Regions from separate parts of the Homo sapiens genome. Here region 2 is linked to region 1. Evidence: fine-mapped expression QTL. Tissue or cell type: cerebellum. Region 1 holds a variant in brackets; the other region holds the start of a gene. All regions are shown on one strand. Distances are from middle to middle.

Region 1 (8,105 bases):
GAAGTTCAGCCCGTGTGCATGGAAACGGCAAATACCAAGAGGCTATGCATGGGGCCCAGTCAGGGGCTGCTACATCCTGCAAAAAAAAATCTCATAGTATCTCAAAGGTTCTGATTGGGTCATATGTTCATCCCTGGACCAATCACTGAGGCCAGAGGGATGTGACACGCTAATTGAGTCAGTCTTAAGAGTGGTGGAGGGGGCAGGAAGAATGAGGGGGTAAGTGTGTTCCCTGTGTACCTTATAGAAACGAAGAGCATGAACCATAGCAACTCTCAGAAATAAGACAAAGAGGCATCAGTTGGGTGGCCAGGAAAACAAGACACACAAATGACCACGCCTCAGCCCCAAGTTGCAATTAATCAGAAGGTGAGAGGGTTGGGTTTAGCTTGTCAAAAGCCCTTCCAGCAAAACCCTTTAGCTAGTCACTTTAAACTTTGGTTTAAAGCATTAATTGAGCACTGACCTGTGCCAGACATTATGTCAGGCTCCGAGAGGACACAGATGAAAAGGTCTAATTTCTGTTCTCTGGAAACACAGGCAAGGGTGGCAGTGGAGATGGAAAAGCCAACGACTGCTGTTTCAACGATCATTTCAGCAGATCTGTTAATGAGATGCCACTGATCGTGACACACACAAATTATTTCATGAGCCACCAAGGAAAAAGAAAAGTTGCCAATTAAATATGTCACACCTTGGATAATAAGATTTATCCCGATTTTAGAGATATGAAATGTAAAAAAGATGAGTTTTAGAACTGATGGATTTTGGTCATATTTCATAGCTTATAAAGGATTTTTTTTTTCTTTCTTGAGATGGAGTCTCACTCTGTCGCCCAGGCTGGAGTGCAGTGGCGCGATCTCGACTCACTGCAACCTTTGCCTCCCAGGTTCAAGCAATTCTCTGCCTCAGCCTCCCGAGTAGCTGGGACTACAGGTGCATGCCAACATGCCCAGCTAATTTTTTGTATTTTTAGTAGAGACGGGGTTTCACCATGTTAGCCAGGATGGTCTCGATTTCCTGCCCAGCCTATAAAGGATTTTTTTATAGACACTATCCCATTAGGTACTCACTACAAACCTGCTGGGGGTAATATCACTGCTATTTTCCATTCCGTGAAACTGCACTCAGAGAGGTCAAGTGACTTTCCCAAGGTCGCTAAGCTACTAAACAGCCAAAGTGGAACTCAACCCCAGGTCTGCCTGGTTGCAGAACCAGGAGACCACCAGGTCTCCCTGACACTTTTGTGACTCCTGGTCCATCTTTTTACCAAACATGGACCTCGCCCATCTTTGTTTGCCTCCCACTTCAAAACAAGGATCCCAACCAACTCCACCTCCCTCTGCTCCCACCCACCCATATGCCTGGTCTTGAGATTTCTGTTCCCAGGAGCTTTCTTCCCTTCCAGGCAAAACAGCCTTCCTTGGTGACCACAGGCAGATCGTATGGTCACCCAATCATTCCCAGCTCCCCTCAAGGCTACTGCCATGGTGAGCACTACTCAAACCTGGGTCCCTACCAAGGATTCTATTTTGAAGGAGCCAAGCCTTTGTCCCCCAGAATACCTTAAATTAGACCTATTTGATAATGGTTTGTGTGATAGTTTCCTCATGTATATGTTCCCTCATGAACATAGGGGTTCACACTTGGATTAATGCTCTGAGTTCCTACCTTGAAATTCTTAATAATTTTGAACAAAGGACCCCACGTGTTCATTTTGCACTCAGCCCTACAAATGACGTAGCTGGCCCTGGTGAGAATGGGCCCGCCACACTTAAAAGTATCTGAGCAAGAAGTCGGACTTGTTGCCCCATTCCTGGGACTCCTGAGGTCAGGAACTGTCCTGGTCACCTCTGTATGCTCTGGGAACAGGCAGTGCTCAGTTCCCTAAGCAGAGGGACTCCTCAGTAGGCACTGAATGAAGTGTGTGTGTGTGTGTGTGTGTGTGTGTGTGTGTGTGTGTGTGTCCATGCACACACAAGTCAGCCTATGTTCTTTCAGTTGCAAGGGCTAGAAATCCAGTTCAAAGTACACAAAACTCAGAGGGGGAATTTATTCAACCCTTGGATTGAAAAGTGTAAGAGGTTGATGAACTTCAGGCTCAGCTGGATCCAGAGACTCAATTACTGTCACCAGGCCACTAGCTCTTGGCTCTGCTTTCTCCACCATTAGCTTTATTCTCAGGCAGGGCCTCCTCTCAAGCCCCAAAAGCACCAGACTGACATACCACTGGCTCAGCAAGCTTTTCATGGAAAGGTCCCACCAAAGCCAAGCCTCAGTCCCTGCCCACCTCTGTACCAATCACCAAGCCAGGGGCTATGATATTCTCATTAACCAGATTCCAGTCACAGGCCCACCTCTGAACCAATCATTGGTCCTGGCAGCTGTGATACTCTCACTGGCAGGCCTGGGTCACATGCTCACCCCTGAACCAATCCTCACTGGCCCTCGCGGCTGTGACACTCTCATTGGCAGGCTTAGGTCATGTGGGGAGAGGAGGCTCTCTAAGTGGAAGTCAAGAGGCTGTTGCTAGAGAAAGTGTTTATTTGGTGCCCAATGGGCAGAAATAACTAGTAACATCAAGGCTTCTCTCTGCCTATGTCCCAAGATGGTCACTTGGGTCTGAAAAGCCTGAGAAACCTGCTGACGCAGAAGAGCAGCCTTGGAAACCTAGCAAAAAGGGAAGGCCTGGGACATACCAAGAGTCCAGACAACCAAAAGGCCCACAGGAGGGGTCAGCAGGACCGGGGCAGATCAGACAGGTGCCAGAGGCAGGCGACCACTCTGCACAGTTACCACCAGAGGGCAGCTGGCCAGGAGGCAGGGTAAACAGGAAGAGGTCAAGTAGCCTTGGGGAAACTCTGTACCTTGCCTGAGGCATGGCAGATAATAACACTGACTACTCACCCTTATTGAGCCTGGCCCTGTCCTAAGCATTTTTATGCATCAACTCAATGAATTATCACCAATGAGATTGGTACATTTATAACCCCATTTTACAGATGAGGAAGCCAAGGCTTTCAAGTAACGAGCCCAAAGTGTCATACGGCAGAAAGGGGGCAAGTCACGCGTCTATTCCACCAAACCCTGAGCCTCCTGAGGTTAGGGGCTGTGTCTTGTTTGTATCTGAAGTCCCTGTGGACCCTAACAATCACTGTGCTTAATGGATATCTGGTGAAGTGAAAGCCTGGGGCAGGGGGCGCTGTCACTGTGTTCTCCACCCTCCCCACCCTCCCCATCCCAGGAGGAAATTACCAGGCTCAGTTCAGGCAATACCCCTTCCAGGTGTGCTGACCTTGGAAGATGATTCTTAGACCTTGCCCTTGCTCTGTTGTAATGGACTCTCAGGCACTACAGTACTCACATCAGTAGAAGAGAGAGTTTGAGATTTTGCAAAGGCTTGACAACTCCAAAGTCTCATGGTGTAGGTCACTTATTTTTGTTTGAGGCGGTCTTGCTCTGTTGCCCAGACTGGAGCACAGTGGCACAATCTTGGCTCACTGAGACCCCCACCTCCAGGGTTCAAGCAATTCTTGTGCCTCAGCGTCCCAAGAAGCTGGGATTACAGGCATGTGCCACCATGCCTGGCTAATTTTTGTATTTTTAGTAGAGACAGAGTTTCCCCGTGTTGGCCAGGCTGATCTCCAACTCCCGGCCTCCAGTAATCCACCAACCTAGGCCTCCCAAAGTGCTGGGATTACAGGTGTGGGCCACTGCAGCCGGCCTGTAGGTCACTATTTATGCCTCTCCCAGGAGTAGCTGGCTGTGCAGTTGGGGGGAAGAGGAAGAACATATTTAATGTGAATTCATTCATCATCCTCCACTGGGCTCCCATGGTGGGCCAAATACCATGTTGAGTGCCTTGAGGGGGACAGAGGGAAGCATGACAAAACCTCCTCTCTCCAATCCCCTCCTGGGAGGAGAAATAAGTCACTGCCAGAAGGAAGAACACAGAAGGAAGTCC[T/G]GCCTTCCACAAGAGAGGACTTCAACCGTCTAATCATTTGGGCAACAAAAATGTATTAGGTACATGTCAAGTGCCAGTGAACAAAACAGAATAGACTCAGCTCTTGCCCTCAGGAAGTTCTCAGTCTTATGGGAAGGCAGACAATAGACAAATAAATACGGAATTGCAAATGTGATGTGTTTTATCAGAAACAGAAAAACCACAGGGTGCTATAAGAGAAACTAAAAGAGGTCCGGGTGCAGTGGCTCACGCCTGTAATCCCAGCACTCTGGGAGGCCGAGGCAGGTGGATAACCTGAGGTCAGGAGTTCAAGACCAGCCTGGCCAACATGGCGAAACCCCGTCTCTACCAAAAACACAAAAAATTAGCTGGGTGTGGTGGTGAGCACCTGTAATCTCAGCTACTCGGGAGGCTGGGGCAGGAGAATCCCTTGAAACTAGGAAGTGGAGGTTGCAGTGATCTGAGATCTCGCACCTGAACTCCAGCCTGGGCGACAAAAGCAAAACTCCATCTCAAAATATATATATAAATAAAGACAGAAACTAAAAGGGGACTTGTTGGAGCAGTTTAGGGTTGCCTTTCTGAGGTGGTGAGAGATGAGAAGAGGCCAGCCATATGAAGAGTGTGGGAACAGCATTCCAGAATAAGGGAATAGCATGTGTGAAAGGCCTGCATGGAGGAAGAGTGTGGCATGTTCAAGGGACTAAGATTAGGCAAATTATGTCTGGAGATTAGTGGGTAGAAGTAGGCAGTGGCAGAAATCGGGGTCAGAGAAGAGCACGAGGTCAGGTTACACTGAGCCTTGTAGGCTTAGGAAAAAAGCTTGGGCTTGATCTGAGATGGGAGACCCCCCAAAGGGTTATGAACAGGACGATGATGTGGCCTAATCCAATCTATAATCTATGTTTTTGTTTTTATTTTTGTAACGTACCACCACCCACAGAAAAATCCATGTGTTTTGTTTTTAACAGAGATGGGGTTCTCACTATCTTGCCCAGGTTGGTCTCAAACTCCTGGTCCTCCTACCTTGGCCTCCCAAAGTGCTGGGATTACAGGTGTGAGCCACTGCCCCTGGCCCGGAAATCTGTGTATTTCAAAGTCACTCTGGCTGTGGTGGGGAAAGTGGATTTATGGCGGAGCAGAGTGGAAGCCAGGAAATATGGCAGCTCTTGCTGAGTCAATAGCCAGGGTGCACAGATGAGGGGCTATTCCTTCCTCATAGCGGGCTCTGGGGAGGCTTTCAGAAGCAGATTTTACCCCAGGTGAAAGAGGGACAGGCAGGCAGGAAGGAGAAGGCTGTATTCCCCACTCCACTCACTTTTCTCCTAAATAAAGGGGAGAAAAAAGTTTTTCCTTTTTCTGCCTCAGAAACTATAAAGAGATGCCCATTCATTGGTGCCTTCCAAAATGCCTATGTGTAGACTTAAACAACAATAACAACAGAACATCAGCAGTTCTGAGTGCAAATAATTCAATGATGTTGTAAAATCTGGCATAAATAGATCTGGCTGAGCCTCACAACTTTTCTTCCGGGGCTGACAATGTCAGCAACTCCAAGTCTGAACCCCTACTGGCTCTGAAAGGCAAGATCACAGTAGAGAGAGGAGGAGAAAACGCCCCTGGGTTGCATTTCCCCAGCAAATGGGCATGTTTGCCTCTCTGAGGAGCAGGCCAAGCATCAGCCAAGCCGACTGGAATTGGATTTGTAGGAAAGAACCTTTCTACCAGTTCTTTATCAGTGACCAGTCTCATGGGGGACAGGGTGAACATTTTGTGAAGCGTGTTATGTTTGTTAGCAGCAAGGTGCCTCGGGGCTCCTGTCAGCGCCAAGTAACAGGGCTCTGAGTAATTGGGCTCGGGGCTCCCCTCAGTAATAGGGCTCCAAGTAACAGGTAACAGTGCTCATCATTTACTTCCTCCTCTCATTGGGCCCTCACAACCTGCTCATTCTCAAGGCAGGTAGAGAAACTGAGTTTAGAAACAGGTGTTTGTTTTGTTTTGTTTTGTTTTGTTTTGTTTTGTTTAATGCTTGGTTACTTTGGGTACAGCATCCATTCTCCAATCCTCTGGTCACAGTACCCTAATTTTTCTAAGGGATCCCAACTTACTTAGGCCATGTGGTTTAGGTGGCACTCGTCTCCCTCCCAAGCTCCTGGGTTAGAAGACCCATGGTCTAGGATTCACTTGTCCCTGAATTCTGCCACCACCTTGACCACCCTCCACCCACATCCCACCCCTTCATGGTCATAGGCTCTAGGTGGGTACATGATATAAACCAGTCCAATCACATAGCCCTGTGACTTTTGATGGGCCACTGGGGAAAGGCACATTCCCTTTTTTTCTGGACTGGGATCTATGAGGATATCATCTGGGAGCTTCTAGAGGCCAATGGAGCCTGTCTGAGGATGGGACCAGGGCAGAAGGAAGTAGACCAGAGAGAGAGAAAGCCTGAATCTTGGGGACATCATTTGAGCACCTGGATATAGCCACACCTGAAGCTCAACCTCATTAGGGATGGGTTTCTGACTGTCACATGGAGGCCAAGCAATGCAAGAATGAGAACCAGGCTTTGTGATCTCCAGTTCAGTGTTCTTCCCCTAAATCAAGTTCCAGCTGACTTTATCCAGCCACACAACAAGCTCAACTAATCTGTGTGTGGCTTTATGGTCTGCTAAAAGATGTGTATTTTAAAAATAAAAACATCTGATCATTATAATGTTTTATCTAACCGAATTACAGAGCCGTGGAAGGGCCCCTGGAAGTCCTATCACTGAGTGGTTTTCAAAGATTTTCAGCAGCTTCTTGTTTCAAATGAAGTTTTAAGCAGAATGCCTATGTGTGAGAAATAAAAGCAGTAGCTTGTTAGTGCAAATGTGTTTTATCTTTTACGTTAAAAGTTCTTAACATTTGGCTGGGCACAGTGGCTCACGTCTGTAGTCCTAGCACTTCAGGAGGCCAAGGCAGGTGGATCACCTAAGGTCAGGAGTTCGAGACCAGCCTGGCCAACATGGGGAAACCCTGTCGCTACTGAAAATACAAGAATTAGCTGGGTGTGGTGGTGCATGCCTGTAAACCCAGCTACTCGGGAGGCTGAGGCAGGAGACTCACTTGAACCTGGGAGGCGGAGGTTGCAGTGAGCCAAGATCATGCCACTGTACTCCAGCCTAGGAGACAGAGTGAGACTCCATCTTAAAAAAAAAAAAAAGAAAAAAAAAGTTCTTAACATTTACTTTTTACAATCAATGAAGACCCAAATGTCAATGTGTTATTCATTTCCAATGTATAAAATTTTATTATATATTTGCATGTGTGGGAGGTTTTCAATCACTTTTTAAAAATTATTTATAATTGATACATAATAATTATACATATTTATGGGGTACAGAGTGATATTTTGATACATATATGCAATGTGTAATGATCAAATCAGAGTAATTAGCACATCCATCACCTTACACATTTATTATTTCTTTGTGTTGAAAACATTCAAAATCTTCTTTTCTAGCTATTTGAAATATACAATAAATTATTATTAACTATAGTCACCCTACAGTGCCAAAGAACACTAAAATGTATTCCTCCTATCTAGCTAAATATCCATCAGCAGACGAATGGATAAAGCAAATACACAGTGGAATACTACTCAGCCTTAAAAAAAGAAGGAAATCCTGTTGTTTGAAATAACATGGGTGACCTGGAAGACACGACATTAAGTGAAATAAGCCAGGCACAGAAAGAGAAATACTGCAGGATTAAAGGCTAAATCCTTTGCCCTCACTCATATGTGGAAGCTAAAGGAGTTGATCTCATGGAAGTAGAGGGTAGGCTAGAGCAGGAAGTAGGGTAGTAACTGGAGGCTGGGAAGAATAGGGAAGGCAGATAGAAAGAGGTTGCTTAACACACATCTATGCCAAGACGAAGAGAGAGGAGCTGAGCCACGTCCTGGCGGCCATGAAGAAAGCAGCTGCCAGGAAGGACTGAGCTCCCTGCCCTCTGCCCAAAATAAAAGCTTCACAGGAAAAACAAAAACAAAAAACAAACAAACACAAAAAAAAGTTGGTTAATGAATACAAAATTACTAGATAGAAGGAATAAGTTCTAGCATTCTATCACTGTTCTTTTTTAATAGTTAAAAATACTT
Region 2 (8,105 bases), 310 kb before region 1:
GTGAGCCATACACACCCCAGCTAGTGACGTTGGGCTTCTGTGGACACCAGGAAGGGGAGGCCCGCCCAAGCCACGTGACTCGGAGCTCTGTCCTCCCAGCAGCTACATCACCACACCTCTGCCCTGGCCTTCTTCCAGAAACCTCAGAGCAGAGAGAATCCTGAGGGCCAATTCAGCCAGGCCCTGTCTCTGAGCAGGCATTGTCCTGTCTCATCTTAAACATCTGGGGAGGAGAACCTGGCCTTAGTGCTGTTCTCACTAACCAGCTCAGGAAGCTCACCAGCTTGGGAAGTTAATCATTATGTCTAGCTTCAGTTTCTCCTGCTTCAGTTTAAATTGGGAAAGAGAGAGAAAAAATATTCACTCATTATCTGTTTCCTAAAATTGTCCTTAACATCCTTCCTCTTACTCCTTTATTACCTGGTCGGGCTTCCCCTCTTCAGGCGAAATCTGTCAGTCTATCTGCATTGCCTTTTGATCTCTACTTCAGTTACTACAACTTCAAAGACACCATTGTCCTCCCCAAGGTGAGGCCCATGTAGAGAAAGGATCACTTCCTTGCTGAAAGAGAGGGTCAAGGGGCGACCCACGTGGGCCCTCCCTGAAACCCAGGCCCAGGCCTGAGCCTGGACACCTCCTTCCTTCCTGAGACCACAGCCAGCCCGGTTTCTCTGGGGCCAAGAGCAAATGCTTTGCTTAAGTGCTGAAATCTCAGCCCACTGACCCCTTGCAGACAGGAGAGGAGGGGAAGCCCAGGGAAGCTCAACTTCCCAAGTGTCCTGAGTCTCTGCTGGGGCCAAGCCCCCCACCCTCCCCCAGCTATCCTGCATTCTCCCTCCCTAACACTGTTCTCTCCCTAAGAGATCAAATCCCCCCACCAGTGCACAATGCACTCTAATTCTCCATTGTAAAAGTAAAGCACTCTCTTGACACTCCCCTTCTTCATTTGGCTCCAATCCCATTTATCTGCTCCCTTTACAGCAGGCCCCCTTGTCTGTTGCCTGTACTGCTGTCCCCAAGTCCTCCCATCCCCTCCCATTCCCTCTAGTTCCCCATCCAGCTCCAGTGAAACTGTCACCAGTGACCTCCCATTGCTCAATCCTCAGCCCTCAGCCTGCTTGCTCTGCCAGGGGCATTGGTCATATTTGTTCCCTCCTTCCTCTTTGGGGCATTTTCTTCATTTCCTCCAGGACACCCCAACTCTCTGATTTTCACTCTTTCTGTCTTCTTGGCTGGTTCCTAACACTGGGGGCCCCAGCACTCAATGGTTAGACCCCTTCTCTTCTCCATATCACTCCATCCCTAGATGAGCCCACCTGCTCTTGTGGCTTTAAATACCAGTTATATGGTGATGATGCCCAAAGTTTTATTTTCAACTCCAACCTCCGCCCTTAACTTTTCCCAACTGCTTACTCATCATTGATGCCTAATGGGCAGCTCAAACTCCACAAGCACAAAACCAAACTCTTGATCTCTCCGCTAAGCAACTCCCATTTCAGTTCATGGCAGCTTCAAACCTCCAGAAGCTCGAGCCAAACACTCAGAATCATCTTTGACTCTACCTTTCTCTTGCACCCCAAACCCTATCGACACGGCCTTTGAAATATATCCCAAATCTGAATGTCTGGTTTTCTTTTTTTTAACCACCTCTGGGCCATGGGCAAGACACCATGGTCTCTCCCGAGAATGACAGCAATGATCCGCTCAACGGGCTCTCCTTCTGCCCTTACCCCACCCCCCCCATGATCCATTCTCCACCCCACAGCTAGATGGGCCTGCCAGACCCCAAGTCAAAGCAGGTGACTCCTCTGTTCCAAACCCGTGCTCCCATCATGCTCAGAGTGAAAACCAAAGCCTCCCAGCCCCCCAGATACTCATGTGGCTCACCCCTCAATTCCTTATGACTTTGCCCAGCTATCGTGGTCTTGGGGAAGCCTTCCCTGGTTGTGCTATATACAATGCAATACCCAGCCCCAGCACCCCATCCTGCTTCCCAGCTTTGTTTTACTCGTAGTACTTCCCGCCACCTGCTACGCCATGTATTTACTTATTTCATTGCTGTCCATTCCTTTCTAGAGTGTGCACTCCATGAGGGCAGGGGGTTTTGTCTGATTTTCCTACTGCTCTGTCTCGTGTCTCATCCAGTGCATGAATGATGACTGCTGGAAAGAATGAAAGAACTGACTTGCTCTGCATGGCTCCGGGAGACAGACATGGAACCAAGGTGTAGAATCTGTAAGCCACAGATTTTAGCTAAAGGAAACAAGAGCTGCAAGGCACTAAAAAGCCACCTCATCAGTAATAAGCTCCCCACCACTGGGCATGTGTCACAGAGGGGCTCTGCACTGGGTAGGAGGGAGGTGGGCTGGATGAGGATGCTTCCAGCCTCAGATCCCAGGGTGCAGCGAGGCAAAGGGGCCTTGAGCAGCCAACAAACTCAGGGGCCCCAGCAGCCCCATGGCTGAGTGATCGGGACAGGCAAGTACAGGTGGTGGGGATGTCACTCTGGTCTTTTTCACTAAGGGGTCAGGGGAGGGTGACAGGGCAGGTGTTTCCCCTCTGTAGAACAAGGACCCTGGAGGAGGCTAGGTCACAGCCCATGGGGAAACCAAGGCCATGGCAGGAGAGGCTCAGAAAGAGCAAACTCAGAAGCAGGGGTCCAGCCCCCAGCCCTCATGCAGCTTCAGGAGGTCCTCCCCAGGGGGATTGGGGTGGAGGGCTTTTCAGTTTGTTGGAATGAAAGCAGGACCAGATGGCTGCTCCATCAACCTGAGAAGCATAGGAGAGCAAACAGCTGGGGGATGTGGCCTCGCAGGTCCTGGTGTGGGCTGTCTGGGAAGGGATGGATTTGAACTTAGATCTCACACCCAACAAGGGAGAAGGAGGAGGCAGGAGATTCCCATAAGAGGTACAGAGAGCAGCAGCAGGATCCTCCAGGCAGACTCTCTCACTTATACCCACCCACTCACTGGCATGGTGAAGCTGGGGAAACTGAGTCCCACAGAGAGGAAGGAAATCAAAAGAGTGGCCCAGGGGCCTCCCCAACCTCGAGATGCCCCCTTTCCGTCTCACTTCCCATCTACATTCTGGGACTCCCCCAGGAGAAACCGAGGCAACCCTTGCCCAAGCCCTGCGGCCAGGACGGCTCAGAAGCCAAGTGTTCAAGTCCCGGGGGTGGGACCCTCGGCGCCCACAGTCTCCCCCCAGCCCACCCCCAGGCGCTGGGCACAGCACTCACCGCGAGCCGCCTGCGCGCCGACTCCAAGGCCCACTCCGGGCCACGACTCCCGGCTCCGGCTCCGGCTCGGGCTGCGGCTCCGGGTGCGCGGGCGCTCGGCTCCGCCCCCGCCCGGACCCCGCCCCTGCTCTGCCGGGACCGCAGCACCCGCTCCTGTCCCGTGGCCCCGCAGCCCCGCAGCCCCGCAGCCCCGCAGCGCCGGCTCCAGGGCTGGCCAGGCTTACCTGGGACAGGGCAGGACCGGGGCTTCCTGCGGGGCTGGACGGCCCTGGCTGTGTGCCCTAGCCAGTGTGCCTCTCTTTCTGGGCCACGTTTCAACCAGGAGGGAATCGGGGAGTCCTCGGAACAACCCGCTTCCCAACACATACACATACACACACACACACACCACACACCACACACACCGCTTCCCAGCACACACGCGCACACACACACACCACACACACACCGCTTCGCAACACACACACACGCCCTGCTTCCCCCCCACACGCAAACATGTTTCCCAATACACACACACAGCCCTCGCTTCCCCCCACACACAAACATGCTTCCCAATACACACACAGCCCTCGCTTCCCCCAACACACATACCTTGCTTCCCAACACTCACATACACACACACACACGCCCTGCTTCCCCCCACCACAAACATGCTTCCCGATACACATACACCCCCTACTTCCAACACACACACCCTGCTTCCCAACACTCACACACACACCACTTCCCAACACACACACACCCTGCTTTCCCAACACATACACCCCACACACACCGCTTCCCAACACACACGTGCACACACACACACACCCCACACACACACCACTTTCCAACACAAACACACACTACACTCCCTGCTTTCCCAACACACACACACCCCACACACACTGCTTCCCAACACACACGTGCACATACACACACCCCACACACACACCACTTCCCAACACACACACACCACACCCCACACACACCACTTCCCAACACACACACCGCTTCCCAACACACACAAACATGCTTCCCAATATACACACACCCCACTTCCCAACACACACACATCGCTTCCCAACACACACATCGCTTCCCAACACACGCCTCACTTCCCAACACACACACACACACACACGCACACACAGCCAAAACTAGGAAAACTTTTCCAGAGTGTGACAGGTTACATGTTAGGTAAGAGTGGACTGGTCATTTAAGGTTCTTTTTTTTCATTTTCCTTTCAGTTTTTCCGTTTATGTTGAATGGAGTTTATTTCTCAGTTTAGTACTAATAGGGTTTGAGTACCTTTCTAGCACTGCCTAGATTACTTGGCTCTGAAACTATCTAATTAGCTTTAATAGCATTGTTTTTGTTTCCATTAAATATATTTTATTTTACATTCTTCTGTTCTCCGGAGCAAATGACACCGGTTTTCCATTTAACATGTTAATGTAAATGTTCCTTTTGAAACTCATATTTGGTTGTTTTAAAAAATGTGAAGTCAATTTTTAAAAATAACGAAAATAACTGGCATCTAGAAAGTGTTTACCATGTGCTAGTCTTTACAGACAGTAACTCAGTTACTTCCACCTCTAGGGTATTGACTATTATTGCCTCTAACTTATAGATGCAGAAACTGAGGTACACATTTGAACTTTGATCTCACGCCCACCAAGGGAGAAGGAGGAGGCAGGAGATTCCCCTAAGAGGTGCAGAGAGCAGCAGTAGGATCCTCCAGGCAGACTCGCTCACTTACACCCACCCACTCACTGGCATGGTGAAGATGGGGAAACTGAGTCCCACAGAGAGGAAGGTACTCAAAAAACAGTGGCCCCCTCTGAGACCTGAAGCCCGGGCTCCTCAGGACTTCTCACTCCTGCCAGGGGCCTCCCCAGCCTCGAGATGCCCCCTTTCCTCTGGCACCAGAGATGGGGATTTGCCCCAGGCCTCTGGCACAGATGAATGCTCTAACCACTACCCCATACCGCTTTCAAGTAAATACCTGTGCAGGTGGTGCACAGTCAGCCAAGGTTGGAAAATGCTGCATTAGAAGGACTGAATCTACCCTAGAAAATTCATTCTGGGCAGCGCACAGAACCATCTACAAGGATGTTCACCACCATCTTGCCTACAGCAGTGAGAAGCTAGAAACCTCCCTAATGCCCAGTAACAGAAAATTAATTAAGAAAACTGACAGAACATCTGAACCTAGAACACTTAACCCGACCCATCTTCTCTCAGCCCCACTATCCAATCTGGGAGCAAATTTTTCAGCTTGGCCTTCAAATATTTCCAAGCTGCAGCCCATTTTTGCCATATGCACCATTACCACCTGGGTCCACATCTCCATCATCTCTCACCTGGGTGATAGCAGGAGTTCCTGGCCATTCTCCACGCCTCCATCTACAGCCCTTCTTCAATCCAGCAGCCAGAGTGAGTCTGTTGGTTTTGCTGTTGTTGTCGTTGTTGCTGTTTTAAGTCAAATTCTATCACTCCTCTGCTGAAACTCTTCTGTTGATGGCTCCCATCCCAAAGTAAAAGCCAAGGTCCTTACAATTGCTGTTTGGCCTCTGGCACCCTCTCTGCCCACCTCTTACACTCTCATCTTACTCACTCTGCTCCAGCTACACTGGCCTCCTGGCTGTTCCTCAAATATGCCAAACCTGCAGTTACACTCAGGCCTTTGCCTTTGCTGTGCCTGGAATGCTCTTTCTTTAGAAATCTACCTGGCTCCCTCCTTCCTCTCCTTTGGGTCTTTGCTTCCATATGACTTTCTCGGCAAGGCCTTCCCTAACTATTCGGTGTACAGCTGCAACACCCTCCAATCCCTTCTCTCCTGCTTTATTTTGTATTTTTCTCCATAGCGCTTATCTGCACACAACACATTATGTATTCTACTTATTTATTGTCTTTGTTGTTGGTCTCTCACCCAAGACAGCATGAGCTCCAAGGGAACAGGGAATTTTTGCTTTGTCCCTTGCCTTCTCCCAAGGCCTAGAACAGGACCTGGCATGCAATAAATCTTTGTTGAGTGAATATACTAAAAATAATGCTGTGGTTCTAATAACCAATGAAAATAAATGAATCACTGTACCCCCACGAGAACTGCAGCCTCACAGACATAATGTTGGGTGAAACAGGCTGAGTGCAAGAGCGTGCATACGGAATGGTATCCTTTCTATAAAGTTCAAAAGCAGGCAAAACTGCATTACAGGTAGGAGCCAAGATAGAGGCTACCACTGGGGAGAAAGTTGGAGGTAGTGACTAGGGGAGGAGTGAAGGGGACTTCTGGGGTGCCAGTAATCTCCTATTTTTACTCTGAATAGTGGTTGCATTGATGCAAATACATTGTGAAACTGACCAAGTTAAACACATGATATTTATATTTTCCTTTATGCTTGTCATATTTCAATAGATATTTATTTTTTAAAGATGCTATAAGTATGTTTATCAGATAGAAAGCTGCCTAGAATATATAAGGCTAAATTTATAAAGTAGACTCTTTTTTGAACGAGGATGCCAAGATGATTCAGGGGGAAAAAAGTGGTCTTTTTAACAAATGGTGCTGGGAAAACTAGATGTCCACATGCAAAAGAACTGAATTTGGATTCCTCCTTCAGGCCTTATACAAAAATTAACCCAAAATGGATCAAAGTCCCAAATGCAAGATTTAAAATATAAAAATCTTAGAAGAAAACATAGGTGAAAATCTTTGTGACCTTGGATGAAGCAATGATTTCTCAGATTTGACACCTAAAGCACAAACAACCAAAGAAAAAAATAGATAAGTTGGACTTTATCAAAATTCCAAGCTTTTGTGCTTTGAAAGACATGATCAAGAAAGTAAAAAGACAACCAACGGAATGGGAGAAAATAGTCACGACTCATATCCAGAATATATAAAGGACTCCTGAAACTCAATAACAAACAACTTTTTAAATGAGCAAAGGATTTGAAAATGTTCAGAGAACGTATGTAAGTAGCCAACAAGCACATGAAAAGACGCTCAACATCATTAATTGTTAGGGAAATGTGAATCAAAGCCACCATAAGATACCACTTTACACTCACAAAGGTGCCCTTAGTCCAAAGGACAGAAAACAAGTGCTGGAAATAATGTGGAGAAACTGGAAGCCTCATACATTGGTGGTTAGAGCGTAAAGTGGTGAAGCCACTGTGGAAAATAGTTTGTGGGTTCTTCATAAAGTTAAACATGGTGTTACCATATGATCCAGCAATTCTACTCCTAGGTATACTCAACAGAATTGAAGCATATATGCACACAAATGCTTGTACACAAATGTTCATAGCAACATTATTCATAAGAGGAAAAAGTGGAAGCAAACTAAATGTCCCTCAGCTGATGAATGGATAAAGAAAATGTGATCTATCTGTGCAATGGAATATTATTCAGCTGTGAAAAAAACAAAGTACTGATAAATGCTACAACATAAATGAACCTTGAAAACATTATGCTAAGTGAAAGAAGCCAGTCACAAAATGACATCTATTGTGTAAGTCCGTTTACATGCAATGTCCGGAATAGGCAAACCCATGAAGACAGAAAGTAGATTTGTTGGTTGCCAGGAACTGAGAGGAGGGAGGAATGAGGAGTGACTGCTAGTGGGCATGAGGTTTGGTTTTTGTTTTGTTTTGTTTTGTTTTGTTTTTGCATGATGAAAATATTCCGGAATTAGATCATGGTGATGGTTACACAACCTTGTGAATGGACTAAAAACCAGTGAATTACACACCTTAAAAGGGTGAGTTTTATGGTATGTGAATTATATCTCAATGAAAAACAGTTGGGCTGCCAAATGCTTTGTGTAGAAAGAATATAAGGCTAAATTTAAAGAGTAGGTTGTTTTTTAACAAGGATGCC

Evidence for each region. PIP is the estimated chance that this variant, and not a neighbour inherited with it, causes the effect.
Region 2: NOD2 starts here. The variant in region 1 is fine-mapped to the expression of NOD2 in cerebellum (GTEx, PIP 0.98).

The regions. Positions count from the first base shown.
Region 1 is chr16:50,376,960-50,385,064 of GRCh38, reverse strand. No RefSeq gene overlaps it. Among named protein-coding and RNA genes, the nearest start is that of BRD7, 12 kb to the right of the region's middle. The variant T/G (reference allele first, on the strand shown) is at 3,965.
Region 2 is chr16:50,688,796-50,696,900 of GRCh38, reverse strand. NOD2 (nucleotide binding oligomerization domain containing 2) reads right to left here and starts at 3,295. Exons shown (of 12, transcript NM_001370466.1): 1 at 3,239-3,295. RefSeq lists enhancers at 372-421, 2,326-2,405, 2,646-2,695 and a silencer at 3,066-3,575.